Homo sapiens: one gene and its partners. The protein of the gene in region 3 purifies or fractionates together with the protein of the main gene of each other region. This does not show direct contact. Each region holds a gene or a part of one and is shown on either strand. Other genes may lie near its edges.

Region 1 (3,500 bases), on a different chromosome or scaffold from region 3:
ATCAAAATCTAACAGGAAAAAAAAAAATCAAAAGAAAAGGAAGAGGAAGAGGAAGCCAGAAGAAAAACACTAAACTCAATATAGGCAGGCAAAATTATACAAAGAGGCGGTAAGGAACTACGTGGTCTGTTGCTTCCCACAGTCATGGAGGATGCGGGTGTGGCCGGGTGGGGAAGTCTCCCTGGGACTCACCTCCATCAGAGCCATAGCTGGGGCATGCCTGAGCCCCACGCCCCCTACACCCCTAAAGCAATTTTCTTACACCATGAAAGCAGCCTGAGCAACTGTGGTATGACCCAAACGACTGAGTAGCTTTCTCCCTACTCCCTGCAGCATGGCTGCATTGCTGTTGGCAAGATGGATCATGGCCACAAAATGAAGAAAACTTGTATGAAAACAGACTAGTTTGGGGCACCTTATAACCAAAAGCTAATAACCTTTCTTACACTTTTTCCCCAAATCTATCTTTCTAAAATTACTACCCATAAATTTCTACAGGTCGAGTATCACTTATCCAAAAGCATTTCAGATTTAAGATTCTTTGGATTTTGGAATATTTGCACTATACTTAACAGCTAAGCATCCCAAATCTGAAAATCCGAAATCCAAAATGCTCCAATAAGCATTTCCTTTGAGTATCATGCCATCACTCCAAGAGTTGCAAATTTTGGAATATTTTAGATTTCAGAATGTCTGGTTAGGGGTACTCAACCTATAGTACATTCTTCTACCCAAAATCTAGCACCAATCCCAATTTGAAATGATAGCATTTGCTTTCTGCCCAAAGCCCAATGGGGCCAGTATTATCACTGTATCCAAAACTTAAGATGAATGATAACATGGTCAATGACTACACCTCAGATTTCAGAAAACCGTTTTCTAACAAGACAATACATGAAGATTTATCCTACCCGAAGTCTTCTGTGGAGTGTCTTTATTTCTCTTTCCATGTCGTGCTTTTGGTCCTGGAGTTTTTTAACTGTATCTGAAAAGATCACCAAAGTTTAAATATCTATTCTCACAACAATCTTCAGAGTAATAATACAAAGAAAAGGGATACTTAAATATGACATTCGAAAAAAGTTATCCTGTCCAAAGACTATAAAAAATTTTAATACAAAACTTTAACAGAAAAAATGTTAAATTCAAGTAATAACAAATATTACTTTCTTTGGAAAATATCAAGTTAAAAATCACAATTTCTAAATCACTTCCTTCCACAGTATCTTAATTTTGAAACAAAAAGTAAAACCGTTAGAAATTCACTTTGTTGGTACATAACCAATCAAAACAATATTGACTGTGACTACAATATGAACTTTTAATCACAAGTATTATTAATCTGCAGTATTTATATAAGCATAGCTTTCCTTACACACTGGAATAAATTCCAGAAAAGAAGTGAATTAGTAAAATCAAAATTAGTAAAAAATATAATACTCAGGGTAGCTGCTGTTTCAATTAATTCTATAAAAATCTTTTTAAAAAATAAAGAATATATTTATAAAGTAAATCAATAATTCCTCAAATTATTTATCCGATAATGTGAATTTTCTTAGAACAATTTCATTCACTCTAAAAACATTCAATGAGCACCACCAATAAGATGCAAAGTACCATTCTAGATAGAGTGAGGATACAAGGATGAAAGTGTAGCACAGGCTAGTCTCCCTGGAACCAGAAACGTAAAGGGAAGTCACCTTCTCTTTGGAGGTTCTACTCTAAAATCCATGCATAAGAGATAAATGACTTAGGAGGGTGCTATGCTGATAGCTGCCACTAAGTAAACCGCTTACGGCTGTGTTACTTTGACAGCTCAGGAACCAATCACTTTTTGGTTAAGGGCAAGAAAGGGTACTTACACAACTGGTGGCAAATCCTTTACCCTGATTTACCTACAGCCCCACCCCAGTAGATCCCTGGCTGTTGTGTGTGTTCCAAGTGTGTCTTACACAGCCTTGTACCATGTTGCCGCCAATATTACCACATCTCGACACATCTGTCTCGACCACTAGACTAAAAACACTTCAAAGGCAGAAGAAGCCATGTGATGACCTCACAGACTCAGTAGTTGGAATATGGTATCTTTAAAATGGAATAAATTTATAAATGTGCCAGCTAATGGTAGCAGTAATAAAAAGTAATGCTGAAATCGTTACCTAGGTTTTTGTTTTTTTTTTAATAAGTATCCTATTGACAGAACTTAACGATTTATCATTAGGGAAAACATAACTATAGACATTAGTGTTTCTGGGTAAATAACATTCTCTCCCATTCCTTATACTTAGTAGCAGGAATTCAGGCATAGTGAACACCTGCTTGCAATGACACATGTAATCAAAAAATTCTTCCTCTAGCTAACACTTTATTGGCTTTTAATTAGGACCCTAAAGTATGAGTATGCTGATGTTCTTTCTTTCTTAGATGGCTCATCATCTTCTTTACCCCTGTTCCACTAGAACCTTCTCTTCTAAAATTTTTTTGCCATTATGCTTTACATTTGATGTTGGTATATGTGTGTTCTGATGTTTTTTTTTTTTTTTTTTTTTTTTTGAGACGGAGTCTCAATCTGTTGCCCAGGCTGGAGTGCAGTGGCATGATTTCAGCTCACTGCAACCTCTGCCCCCTGGGTTCAAGCGATTCTCCTGCCTCAGCCTCCTGTGGAGATGGGATTATAGGCGCCTGCCACCACGTCCAGCTAATTTTTGTATTTTTAGTACAGACGGGGTTTCACCATGTTGGCCAGGCTGGTCTTGAACTCCTGACCTCATGATCCACCCGCCTCGGCCTCCCAAAGTGCTAGGATTACAAGCATGAGCCACTGCACCCAGCCAGTGTTCTGGTATTTTTAAATGGCATGAATTCACTTTAACAACATAGAGCCTAGAATATTTACAACAATTATATGTGGAATAATAATTATTACAAATAAATAATAATGCTGTATTTTCTAAAGCTGGATCAGAAATAAATGGGATAAAACGTTGGCGGCAGGGGCAATTCTGGTAGGCAGTAGTTAACTTGCTCTCATTCACTGCCCCAAAACTGTGTAACAAAGTCAGGTCCTGTGAAATAAAAAGGTTCAAAATTTACTCTTTAATTTGATAAATGTGTCATATGTACCAACTTTGTACCAGGCTTTTTTCTAAGTGCTTAAGATGTAAAGGAAAGGAAAGATATAATCTTCATCCTCTTAGAGACAGAAAGGCTAGTCTTGTGTTGAGACAACAAGGGTAGATGACTTCATAAGCAAAAGATTAAACTTTAAAGCCTGTCTCACACATAAGGTACTTCAGACTCAACCTGCAAACGAAGAGTCAAACAGGCCATCTAATCTGGTTTGGGTAAAGCAGACACCAAGCTGAGTAGACGAGTCTAATGCCCTGATCCTTATCTCTGGAGGCAAGGATGGCTCTGGAATCAGCAAGGGAACTTGGTTCCTTGCGACCTCACACATAGACAAATTCAGGGTTTTGGACATAAGACGAGGAGTAAGGACA
Region 2 (3,500 bases), on a different chromosome or scaffold from region 3:
TAAGATTATGCTGCCCTAGAGACAGATGTTAGAAAGCTGTAATATTTAAAAATAAAGAGATAAACACATGGTTGAGAGGAAAGAATAAAATAATTTAGCGTTGAGATAGAATATTAAAAAGAAAAAAGGAAAAGATGGAAAGATAGATTTTATCATACTGTATTGGCACAAGAAATGGCAAATCCTTTCATGTAGGGAAAAACTTTTATATCTGCCTCAGGCAATCATTTACCATTAGGCAGACATTCTTAGAGTGCACTAGGGTAGATCTGTAAGAACTGCTTAGCAGGGCTAATTACGATTACACAGAAAAGACTTACCTCTTGTCACCAGATAAAGTCCAGGCTTTGACTTAAATCCATACACACCAGTTTTCATAAAAGTTTAAACATGAAAAATGTTATATACTTTGGTAATTCACATTCAGTGAACATAAAAACAACATTAAGTAATGATAACTCTGGATTTATCTGGTAACTTTTACTGCAGAGGTCAAGGTACTTTGTCTTCACTTATTTTTACTAGAGAAAAATAATAAAAATAGATTATAATTGTAGGTTATATAAATATTTACAATTGACATACAGTAGCCATGTATTAAGCAAACACATTTTTAAACAGCAGATTCTCCATTTTTGCTAAAATTTTAACACATTTATAAATAAAATGCAAAGAGTAGGAACAGAAAAGTAGAAGGAACTTTGGCTTTGAATTCAAACAGAATTGGGTTCAGATCCAGGATATTTAATTCACTTCTCTGAGCTTCAGTTTCCTCATCTGTAAAACAGGGATAATACTACCTACTTTACAGGGTTGCTGAGAGGGTTAAATATGTAACTAATGAAGGCTCCAGCATTGTGTGTGAACACTGCAGGTACTCAATAAATGCCAAGTGACATAATCACAAAAAAACTAACACAAACAAGCACATTAGAGATTCCAATTTAATTACCGTTTGTCCTTTTCTTAAAATCTCCAAGTTCTGATTGTACAGTAGAAGCTCCTAACTTAACACCTTTTCCCACTGGGAAGGTGATGCCCTCCTCCTCAAAAAAAAGGGAGGGGGGAATAGTATAAAGGAGGAGTTACCAGAGAAAGGAAAAGGAAACTGAATACTTCTTCCAGGAAAGAGGAGGAAGAGGGCATGAGGTCTGACTTCATGGTCCTGACTACTTCACCTCCTCAAGGATGAAAACTCAGGTAAATAATGGTTAAAAAACAAAAACAAAAACTGAAAGCTGGAAATCTTCAAGAGTTTGCCCTGCTTCCTGTTCATCATTCTAAAAGGAGAAAAACTTGCAGGATAACCACACCCAACAGAGGACTACTACAAACAGAATAAAATGGCAGCGTAGTGTGAGTAGGCCAAGAAAGGTTCTGTAATGGCAGGTCTCAAAGTTCCTTGGCTGTTGTGCAGTGGCTCTTGTGTCCAGGTATTCCTTCATGATCCCAGCAGGATATGTGAAAGGTGGTTGTTTATAGAGTTAAGAGTGAGAAGCCATTCTGGTCACTGTGAGATGATCCCCACAGCAGATGCTGCAGAGCAGACAGACTAAGCCAGGGTTCACAGAGTAGATGTGGTTGAGACATGAGGACCTGAAATGCTGTTGAAAAATGAGAAGAAAACAAATGAGAAAGGGAGAGCTATAAGCTCTGACAGCTCTGAAAGAATACTGGTTTAGTTAATGATAGACTGGAACAGCAGATAAAGAAACCCAGTAACTAGTTTGGACTAGATATATCTCCATGGCAGTCAGTGAGAATTCAGATGACTGCACAAAGACCACACACAGATCTGGGGCTCTCTCCCCTCCCTGCCATAAGAACACATGAACCTTTCCTGACATCTAAAGGACATTTCTGCCAGGAGAAAGGGACAGGAAGAACACCAAAAAACTGGGATTTACCCCCAAAGAACCTATTTTAAAACTAAAGAAACTGAGATCATTTTGCTTGTCATCTTTAAATTCTATCTCATCCTACTCCACTCAAAAGAAAATTTATTCCAATTCTAAAGAAATGAAAGGCCTTTTTAGCTCTTGATAAGTTAGATGCAATGTGTCCAACTCTATAAGTCATATTTTCTTTCTGAGGCCTGGACAGGAAACCAAAATAACCATAATGTTTCTTTATTCACAAATTAAAGTGCCCTAATTACATCAGGTAAGAGGAAGTAGGTAATTATATCAGGTAAGAGGAATCATACATACATTATTTTTCTCTCCTTTAAAAAAATTTATTATATGGGTAATTTGAGAGGTCCATTCATTCATTCATTCAATAAATATTTACTCAGTACCTTTTCATCTATCATATGCACACAGAAGTAAATAAGATTGAGGCTGACTATTATGCACAGAGCAGTTAAAAAGCATTTTTGTACAAAATCATTGTTATAGAAAATTCTGTTGCCAGAATAACAAGTGAAGCCAGTTGTAAGAGGTAATACTATGTAAAATCTTATTTTTTAAAGTATATTTGCTATAACAAAAGAGACACAAGATATGGAGGAACAGGTCAGAAAGACTATCATCATTGCCTTTTTCATTTTTGCATGAACAGGCATGCAAAAGAAGTTATATAGCTGTTTTAGTTATCTCAGTAAATACTGCTTGAAAATTTTAAGAAATTAAACTGAAAAAGTCAAATAACACTGTAATAAAGGCTATAGGATAGTTTGTTGTTTAAGAGTATAGGTATTTTTCATAAAGATTCCCTTTAAAATGTTAGTATTATAGTCCTTTTTTTGAGACAGGGTCTTGCTCTGTCACCCAGACTGGAGCACAGTGGTACAATCATGGCTCACAAGAGCCTCAAACTCCTGGGCACAAGTGATCCTCCAGCCTCAGCCTCCTGAGTAGCTAGGACTACAAGCACGCACCAGTATACACCACCACGCTGGCTAATGTTTTTTAGTTTTTGTAGAGACTAGGTCTTGCTATGTTTTCAAGGCTGGTCTTGAACTCCTGGCCTCATGCAAAGCTCCCGCCTTGGCCTCCTAAAGTGCTGGGATTACAGGCATGAGCCGCTGTGCCCACCCCAAGCCCTTAATGTCTTGCTTATTAAGTTCAAAGTTTTACATTATCAGGTTTTCTTAAAGGTGGGCTATGGAAGCCTGACAAATACATGCTATTTGTCGATATGGTGTTATAAACATGAAACAGAATACTATGGCTTTACTTTAAAAAAAAATCCTATAATTTTCCAAAGATATTTATCTATAGAAATGGCATTGTAGAATATTTTCAGAAAGGCTTTTATGGTGGCTCTTTGAATCATTGCCCATTCAAAGAATTTTAAATATTCTATCTAACCTCCTGTACCATAAAGCCCATTGGATTTCATATACTAGAGCATAGAGTACAAAATTTAGGAAAAACCTCTGCTTTTATCAGTTACTTCTGACAAAGTTGGTATTTCAGTCATCCTACATGTACATCATACACTGATTGAAAGGTGACATTGTTAGAGATTATAAATAATTCAACAAATGGCATCTA
Region 3 (3,500 bases):
CAGGGGCAGCCTCTTTGTGGGGACCAAAACTGTAGTCAGCAGTGTCTTCCTCAGGGAGAAGCTGGGAAAATGGCATTATCTGAGGACTTGGAGGGATATAAAATCAGGGTGAGGGAGGCCTGGAATCTGAGGGAAGCTCAAGTTATCAGCACAGGGATGCCCAAAGGCAGATGTGGACCTGTTTTAAGGATCATAAAGATGTTGCTCCCAATTCCTTTGAAGACAGCCAAGGAGAGGCTTAGACTGTAGCCATAGAAACTGGGTCAGAGACCAGCAACAACTGCCCTGTCAGAGTTAGATTTCTGGGAGCAGCTTGAGCAGAGTTCATGTAGGCTCCTTCTCTGAGAGTTTTTTTTTTTTTTAACTCTCAGAGAAGGTGGGACAGGCAGAGGGGAGGGAAGCCTATGAAGAGTCTCTTGACGCCTGGGTCACTGTGTCATTTCTTCTTCCCCCAGACAAGTGTCCCCCAGCCCCACCTCTCCCTGGTGCTGCACCCTCTGTGGTGTTGACAGTGGGCCTGTCAGGTGAGTATCCCCAGGGCTCTGGGCAGGGCTGGTGGGACCAGGGGTGTGTGTCCTTGGCCCCTGTGTCACTGATCCTCCTTCCAAATTAGCCATTCGAATTAAGAAACCTATCAAGACCAAGTTCCGGCTGCCTGTCTTCAACTGGACAGCACTGAAACCCAACCAGATCAGTGGCACTGTCTTCAGCGAACTTGATGATGAGAAGATCTTGGAGGTAACAGGGCCTGGGGTCCAGAGGGCTAAGGTTGAGGGCTAGGGACCTGGTTGCCTTTTGAGGAGATTCTGGTCTTAGAAAAGCCATCAGACAGGGTGAGGCCAGGCTTAGCTCCACCAACCCTTCATTCTTGAGTGTACGTATATTTCTAGTTGTGTCAACACTTTGTGTTTGTATTCAGGAAATATTCCAGAGTGACAGAGCTCTGGGCCAATGCTGGGTGGGCTGTCATGAGGTCCTCCACTAGTATGAGGCTACAGCGTTTTCCTTGCTCACCTATTCCTGCCAGGACCTGGATCTTGATAAGTTTGAAGAATTATTCAAGACAAAAGCGCAGGGCCCTGCCCTTGACCTCATCTGCTCCAAAAACAAGACAGCGCAAAAAGCTGCCAGCAAGGTGACTCTGTTGGAAGCCAATCGTGCCAAGAACCTGGCCATCACCCTACGCAAGGCTGGCCGCTCGGCTGAGGAGATCTGCAGGGCCATTCATACGTGAGGCTCCCACTGACCTGGCTCTGGTCCCTAGTCTGTTGGCAACCCAGTTCTCCACCCAGGAGCCTGGGTTTCCCTAGATTCCAGGTCATCTGACAGAACTCCCTCACATCCCCCTAGTCATCCACTGGCTTGGCTAGAATTTACTGCATCTGTGCTGGCAGTTCAGCCCAGACCTTCACCCAAGGAGCTCTCAGTCTATTGGGAACAGTGCAGTAACACTGAGTGATACCACCAGGATGGTAGAAGTATACAGGCAGCTTTGGGAGAATAGGGAGGTTCATGTAGCTGAGCTTGGTGATGAATGAGGGAAGCCTTCCCAGAGGAGGTAATGTCTCAACTGGGACCTGAAGAAAAGATATGAGTTAGTCCAGTTCAGGGCCTGGAGGGAGAAGCATAGTGCCTTGGGTACTAAAAATTGAATCTGGCTTTAGTGTAGGGAGAGGAGCAGGAGAAGGTAGAGAGTTGGGCAGAAGTCTTGCAGGCTGGACCTCGTAAGCCATGCTCAGGTGTTTGGACTTCACCCTAGGTACAGTGGGAGTACATCAAAGGGCTTATTAAACAGGAGCATGGAGTGTTCCCCCGGGATCATTGCTGGTGCTGTGACAGATGATGCAATGGGTCCTTTGCCTTTGGCTGTGTTCCGTGTACAGTCCCCTGTCCAGTTCTTCTAGGAGCTTGGAGAATAAAAGGGATGAGGGAAAACGTGGAGAGATGTGAGAACTGAGGTGGTCCCTCCCTCCTCCACAGGTTTGACTTGCAGACACTACCTGTGGACTTCGTGGAGTGCCTGATGCGCTTCCTGCCCACAGAGGCTGAGGTAAAGCTGCTGCGGCAATATGAGCGGGAGCGGCAGCCCCTGGAGGAGTTGGCAGCTGAGGACCGCTTCATGCTGCTCTTCAGCAAGGTGGAACGGTTGACCCAGCGAATGGCTGGCATGGCCTTCCTGGGGAACTTCCAGGATAACCTGCAGATGCTCACACCGGTACAGCCCCCACCCAACTCATGGCTCTGGACAGCTGTCCCTCCACCCTCCATCTGCTAGTCACCTCCCCTGCCCTTCCAGTCCTTCTGACCCCTCCCTGTCTTTACCCCATCTCAGCCTGGGGTTACTTCAGTGTTCATATTGTCCTACAGCAACTCAATGCCATCATTGCGGCGTCCGCTTCCGTCAAGTCTTCACAGAAGCTGAAGCAGATGTTGGAGGTGGGAAGAGGTTGTGAACAGGGGTGCTGGGGGTTTTCAGGTCCTAGGTGGGGGCCTGGGGCTATACAGAGAGGAAGAAGGAGCCTTCAGGACCTGAGCCTGACCTGCCTCCCACACATTCTTTGGACAGATCATACTTGCACTGGGGAACTACATGAACAGCAGCAAGCGGGGAGCTGTGTATGGCTTCAAGCTCCAGAGCCTGGATCTGGTAAGATGGTGAGGGCAGCGTGGGCCAGGAAGCCTGGGGGGCAGCAGTTGTGGAGCCAGAGTGCTTAGCTCTTGTGCACCGCCCTCACCCCCTCTCCTAGCTGCTGGATACCAAGTCCACTGACCGGAAGATGACACTGCTTCATTTCATCGCCTTGACAGTGAAGGAGAAATACCCAGACCTGGCTAACTTCTGGCATGAGCTGCACTTTGTTGAGAAGGCTGCAGCAGGTGAGGAGAGCCTGGCTGGGTGGGCCTGCCCTCACATCCAGCCCAGGACAATCCCAGGAAGCTATGAGGAGAGAGAACACTTGGGTCCATTTGTTTCTGGCTTTTGTTATCTTCTTTCTGACCACTTCAAAGCTTTCCGCTGGAGCCTTAAGCAGGGGCCACTCCAGAGGGAGCCTTCCTCCAGGCGCCAGGCCTGGCCCAGCCCAGCCCTTCCCAGCTAGGTACAGTGGGAGCAGGAACAAGAAGGGGAGCAGTCGCTCTTTACTCCCAACTCCCTCAAGCTGGCCCCAGAGGTCTTGTGTTTTGTGTATGATGTATGTGAAGTGCTTAGAAAAAAATCATAAAGCTCTCTATAGACATGAGGTAGCTGTTATTTCTGCCCCACCCATGAACCCTAGGGCAGGCCTGAGGCAGTTTCATTTTGGAGACCAGCAGTCTCTGTGGCTTGCCTGCCTTTGCTACTGTGTTCTTTGGGGTCACAAGCTCAGTTTCCATTCCATTCCCTCCCCCTGTGAGGGATCAGCTAGCTTGGTGTGTACTTCCTTATGTCCATACAGGTATGTGAACCTGAGTGAGCCCATGCTGAGGGGGAGGGCCAGAGTTTGATATAGCTCTGGGCTGGG
Region 4 (3,500 bases), on a different chromosome or scaffold from region 3:
GCCAAGTGATAAGCCAGGACAAGGGCTTCCCAAGCATACAGAGAATAACACTAAGAACAAAGTGTAAGAAGGAAAGAGGGAAAGAAAAGAAAAGACAGGAAAGAGAGAAAGATGGGAAAGGAGAAAAAGGAGAAAGAGGAGAAGGAAAGAAGGGATGGAGGAAAGAAGGAAGGAAGGAAGGGAGGGAAGAAGTGAAGGAAGGGAGGGAGGGAGGAAGGAAGAGAGAGAGACAGAAAGAAAGAAAGAGAGAGAGACAGAAAGAAACAAAAGAGAGAGAGAGAAAGAAAGAAAGAAAGGAAGGAAGGAAGGAAGGAAGGAAGGAAGGAAGGAAGGAAGGGAGGAAGGAAGGAAAGAAGAAGAGAAGAGAAGAGAAAGAAAAGAAAATGGCAGGGCACAGTGGCTCACGCCTGTAATCCCAGCACTTTGGGAGGCCGAGGAGGGCGGATCACAAGGTCAGGAGATTGAGACCATCGTGGCCAACACGGTGAAACCCTGTCTCTACTAAAAGTATAAAAAATTAGCCGGGCATGGTGGCAGGCGCCTGTAGTCCCAGCTACTTGGGAGGCTGAGGCAGGAGAATGGCGTGAACCCAGGAGGCAGAGCTTGCAGTGAGCCGAGATCACGCCACTGCACTCCAGCCTGGGCAACAGTGCAAGACTCTGTCTAAAAAGAAGAAAAAGAAAGAAAGGAAGGAAGGAGAAAAGAAAAGAAGGAAGAAAAGAAAGAAAAGAGAGAGAGAAAGAGAGAGAGAGAAAGCAAGCAAGTGGGAGGAAGGGAGGGAGGGAGGGGGGAGGGGAGGGGGTGGGGGCAGGGTGGAGGCGGGGTGGGGCGGGGGAGGGCAGGGCAGGGCAGGGCAGAATTTGGCACGGAAATTCTCTGATAACCGAAAGAAATCAGTAGTACATCTAGAGTGTAACAATCATCAAGTACTGAGAAAATTGAATGAGATGAGGCTAGAGAGACAGGGAAGGGCAGGCCATATAAATTCTTATACGTCCACAGTGAGGAGTTTGATTTTTTTTTCTTTTGTAGTTGTATTTCCAAATGCAATTAGGAACTTCTGAAGGGATTTAAACAGCAAAGTTATATAATCTGATTTAACATGTTAAAATACTCATTCTGGCTCCTGCATGGAGAATACATTATAATGGAACAACAGTAGGTACAGGCAGATTAATTAGGAGACAAGAAATGATGGTGAGATGAAAAGACCCAGGTTATAGTTTAGATACAGGAACAAAAGAACTTGCTGATGAGCTGGCATGGGACTTGAGGAAAAGGAAGGAATCAAGAAAAACTCACAGGTTATTCAAATAAGCAAATGGACCAAGAAGGAGCCAATTACGGAACAGGAAGGGTAGGAGGCTGCATTAAGTTTTAGTTTGAACATGTAGATTTATGACGTACAACAATAGGCCGGGTGCAGTGGCTCATGCCTGTAATCCCAGCATTTTGGGAGGCCGAGGCGGATGGACTGCTTGAGGTTAGGAGTTCAAGACCAGCCTGACCAACATGGGGAACCCCATCTCTACTAAAAATACAAAAATTTGCTGGGTGTGGTGGCAGGAACCTGTAATCCCAGCTACTTGGGAGGCTGAGGCAGGAGAATTGCTTGAACCCAGGAGGGGGAGGCTGCAGTGACCTGAGATTGTGCACTGCACTCCAGCCTGGGTGACAGAGTGAGACTGTCTTTAAAAAAAAAAAAAAAAAAAAAAAAAAAGATGTACAACAATAACAAAAACATACTGTCAAAATAGCAGTCAGACATCAGGCATAAGGGTCTGGAATTCAGGGTAGAAGATCAGATTGCTGATATATATATTTGTGAGTCATGAATTTACAGGAGATATTAAAAGCTATGAGGAACTGACACAATCACCCAGAGAAAGAGTGTATGTAAAGAGAAGAGAAGAGAGCCCAAACTAAGGGGTTTGATTATAATATTCAGAAGGAGATAGAACAAGAAACACGAACAACAGTTACTGAAAACCCACCAGAATTAATAAGAGTAAATAGGCAAATATGATATCATAGATACCAAGAAAGGAAAGTGTTTCAAGAAGGAGTGACAGCCTATGTTAAATGCAACCGGGTCGAAAAATCTAGTAAGGTACTAACAGAGAAATATCCTTTAAACTGGTGAATGTCACTAGTGACTTTGATTAAAAGTTTCAGAGGAAAAGGGGGTTGAAAAGCAGATGGGGGTTGGTTAATAAATAAATGAAGGATGGCAAGAAAATGGAGAGAGCATCTATCAACAACTCTTCTGAGGATTCTCATTACGAAAGCAGCAGAGAAATAAGGCAATAGCTGAAGGGGAATGTGAGATAATTAAGAGAAAATTTTTAAAGAAAGGAGATAATAAGAGCATGTTAAGGCCAAAAGAAACAATTTGGCAAAAAAAGGCAATGATAATGCAAGAGAAGGGGCGAAATCTTTGAGAAGCTGGAAAGGGATAGCAACTACATTGACTAGCTTTTGATAGGAGCTTTCTGCTTCTATCACAATGTGAGTACAGATGTTGGAAAGCTGGGAAATTATTGACAGTAGGAAAACGAGTACTTTTCATTGTGAATGAAAGGTTAGAATCTGGAAGTGGGGCGGGGATGAAGGGAAGTATTAAAGTTTGAGAGACATGAAAGTGTAAAATAGTCATTTTGTACAGCTGGAGAGCAACAGTGTGAGGCTGCTCTGATGCACAGTGTTGAGCACCCATTGAAATTTGTGGTCATAACTTTCTTCATTATCATTCAGTGATTCCACTGTAGACTAAGAGAAGGCAGACAATTAGGTTCAACCAGAGATGGAGCGTAGCAAATTTTCATATTCCCATTGTCCGTTTCTTTGATATCAGTAAAAATGAGGGAGGACATGTAAAGGGATAAACATTTACATAAAAAGGTATCCACAGCAAGGCAAGCATAGACAGAAGTATACTTTATCATTTTCTCTATCTCTATGCAGGGAAATAATAGAAATCATGGTCCTAAGCTGACATTTCCATCTACTACATTCACCCAATGGACAATTCCCAATATTCACAAACACATTTGGACTTAGGCTATGGCAAATGCAAAAGAGATTGGACAAAAAACAAAAACAGAAACAAATTAAGTCCTTACTCCTGAAACGTTGAACTCCAGAATAATGAAAAAGCTGTTATCAGAACAACTACAGTCATAACCTTCAGATGTTACATCTAACACCAAATCATTTTTCTCAATAGTGATAATGTCTTGATAACATGGAAATATTCTAATTATCTATAGCTTAGTCAACCAAAATTCTCTCAATAATCTCCCAGTTAAAAATATTTCCTTACTTCCTATAAATAATTTATGAGTAAAAGTACTGCATAATGTTTCAATAATCATCACATGACCACCAAAGATATTTTTTCTTCTTCAATAATTCAAATGATTGTCACATTTAATACTTACATTAAATATTGAAAGGAATTTAGCAATTTGAAATGCAGTAATTAAAATGCATTAGATAGC

What was found. The genes of interacting proteins can lie anywhere in the genome.
Region 1: the proteins of FMNL3 (region 3) and SPECC1L purify together in Homo sapiens (affinity purification with mass spectrometry; one large-scale study listed by BioGRID and IntAct). This does not show direct contact.
Region 2: the proteins of FMNL3 (region 3) and NAA11 purify together in Homo sapiens (affinity purification with mass spectrometry; one large-scale study listed by BioGRID and IntAct). This does not show direct contact.
Region 4: the proteins of FMNL3 (region 3) and DCAF6 purify together in Homo sapiens (affinity purification with mass spectrometry; one large-scale study listed by BioGRID and IntAct). This does not show direct contact.

What each region holds. Positions count from the first base shown.
Region 1 is NC_000022.11:24,326,331-24,329,830, reverse strand, and holds part of SPECC1L (cytospin-A), read right to left. Parts: intron 986-3,500; coding exon 912-985; intron 1-911. UniProt on the Homo sapiens protein: Involved in cytokinesis and spindle organization. May play a role in actin cytoskeleton organization and microtubule stabilization and hence required for proper cell adhesion and migration.
Region 2 is NC_000004.12:79,316,188-79,319,687, forward strand, and holds the end of NAA11 (N-alpha-acetyltransferase 11), read right to left. Parts: intron 1,605-3,500; 3' UTR 460-1,604; downstream 1-459.
Region 3 is NC_000012.12:49,648,406-49,651,905, reverse strand, and holds part of FMNL3 (formin-like protein 3), read left to right. Parts: intron 1-455; coding exon 456-524; intron 525-613; coding exon 614-738; intron 739-1,027; coding exon 1,028-1,230; intron 1,231-1,980; coding exon 1,981-2,215; intron 2,216-2,367; coding exon 2,368-2,436; intron 2,437-2,566; coding exon 2,567-2,647; intron 2,648-2,747; coding exon 2,748-2,877; intron 2,878-3,500. UniProt on the Homo sapiens protein: Plays a role in the regulation of cell morphology and cytoskeletal organization. Required in the control of cell shape and migration. Required for developmental angiogenesis.
Region 4 is NC_000001.11:168,006,183-168,009,682, reverse strand, and holds part of DCAF6 (DDB1- and CUL4-associated factor 6), read right to left. Parts: intron 1-3,500. UniProt on the Homo sapiens protein: Ligand-dependent coactivator of nuclear receptors. Enhance transcriptional activity of the nuclear receptors NR3C1 and AR. May function as a substrate receptor for CUL4-DDB1 E3 ubiquitin-protein ligase complex.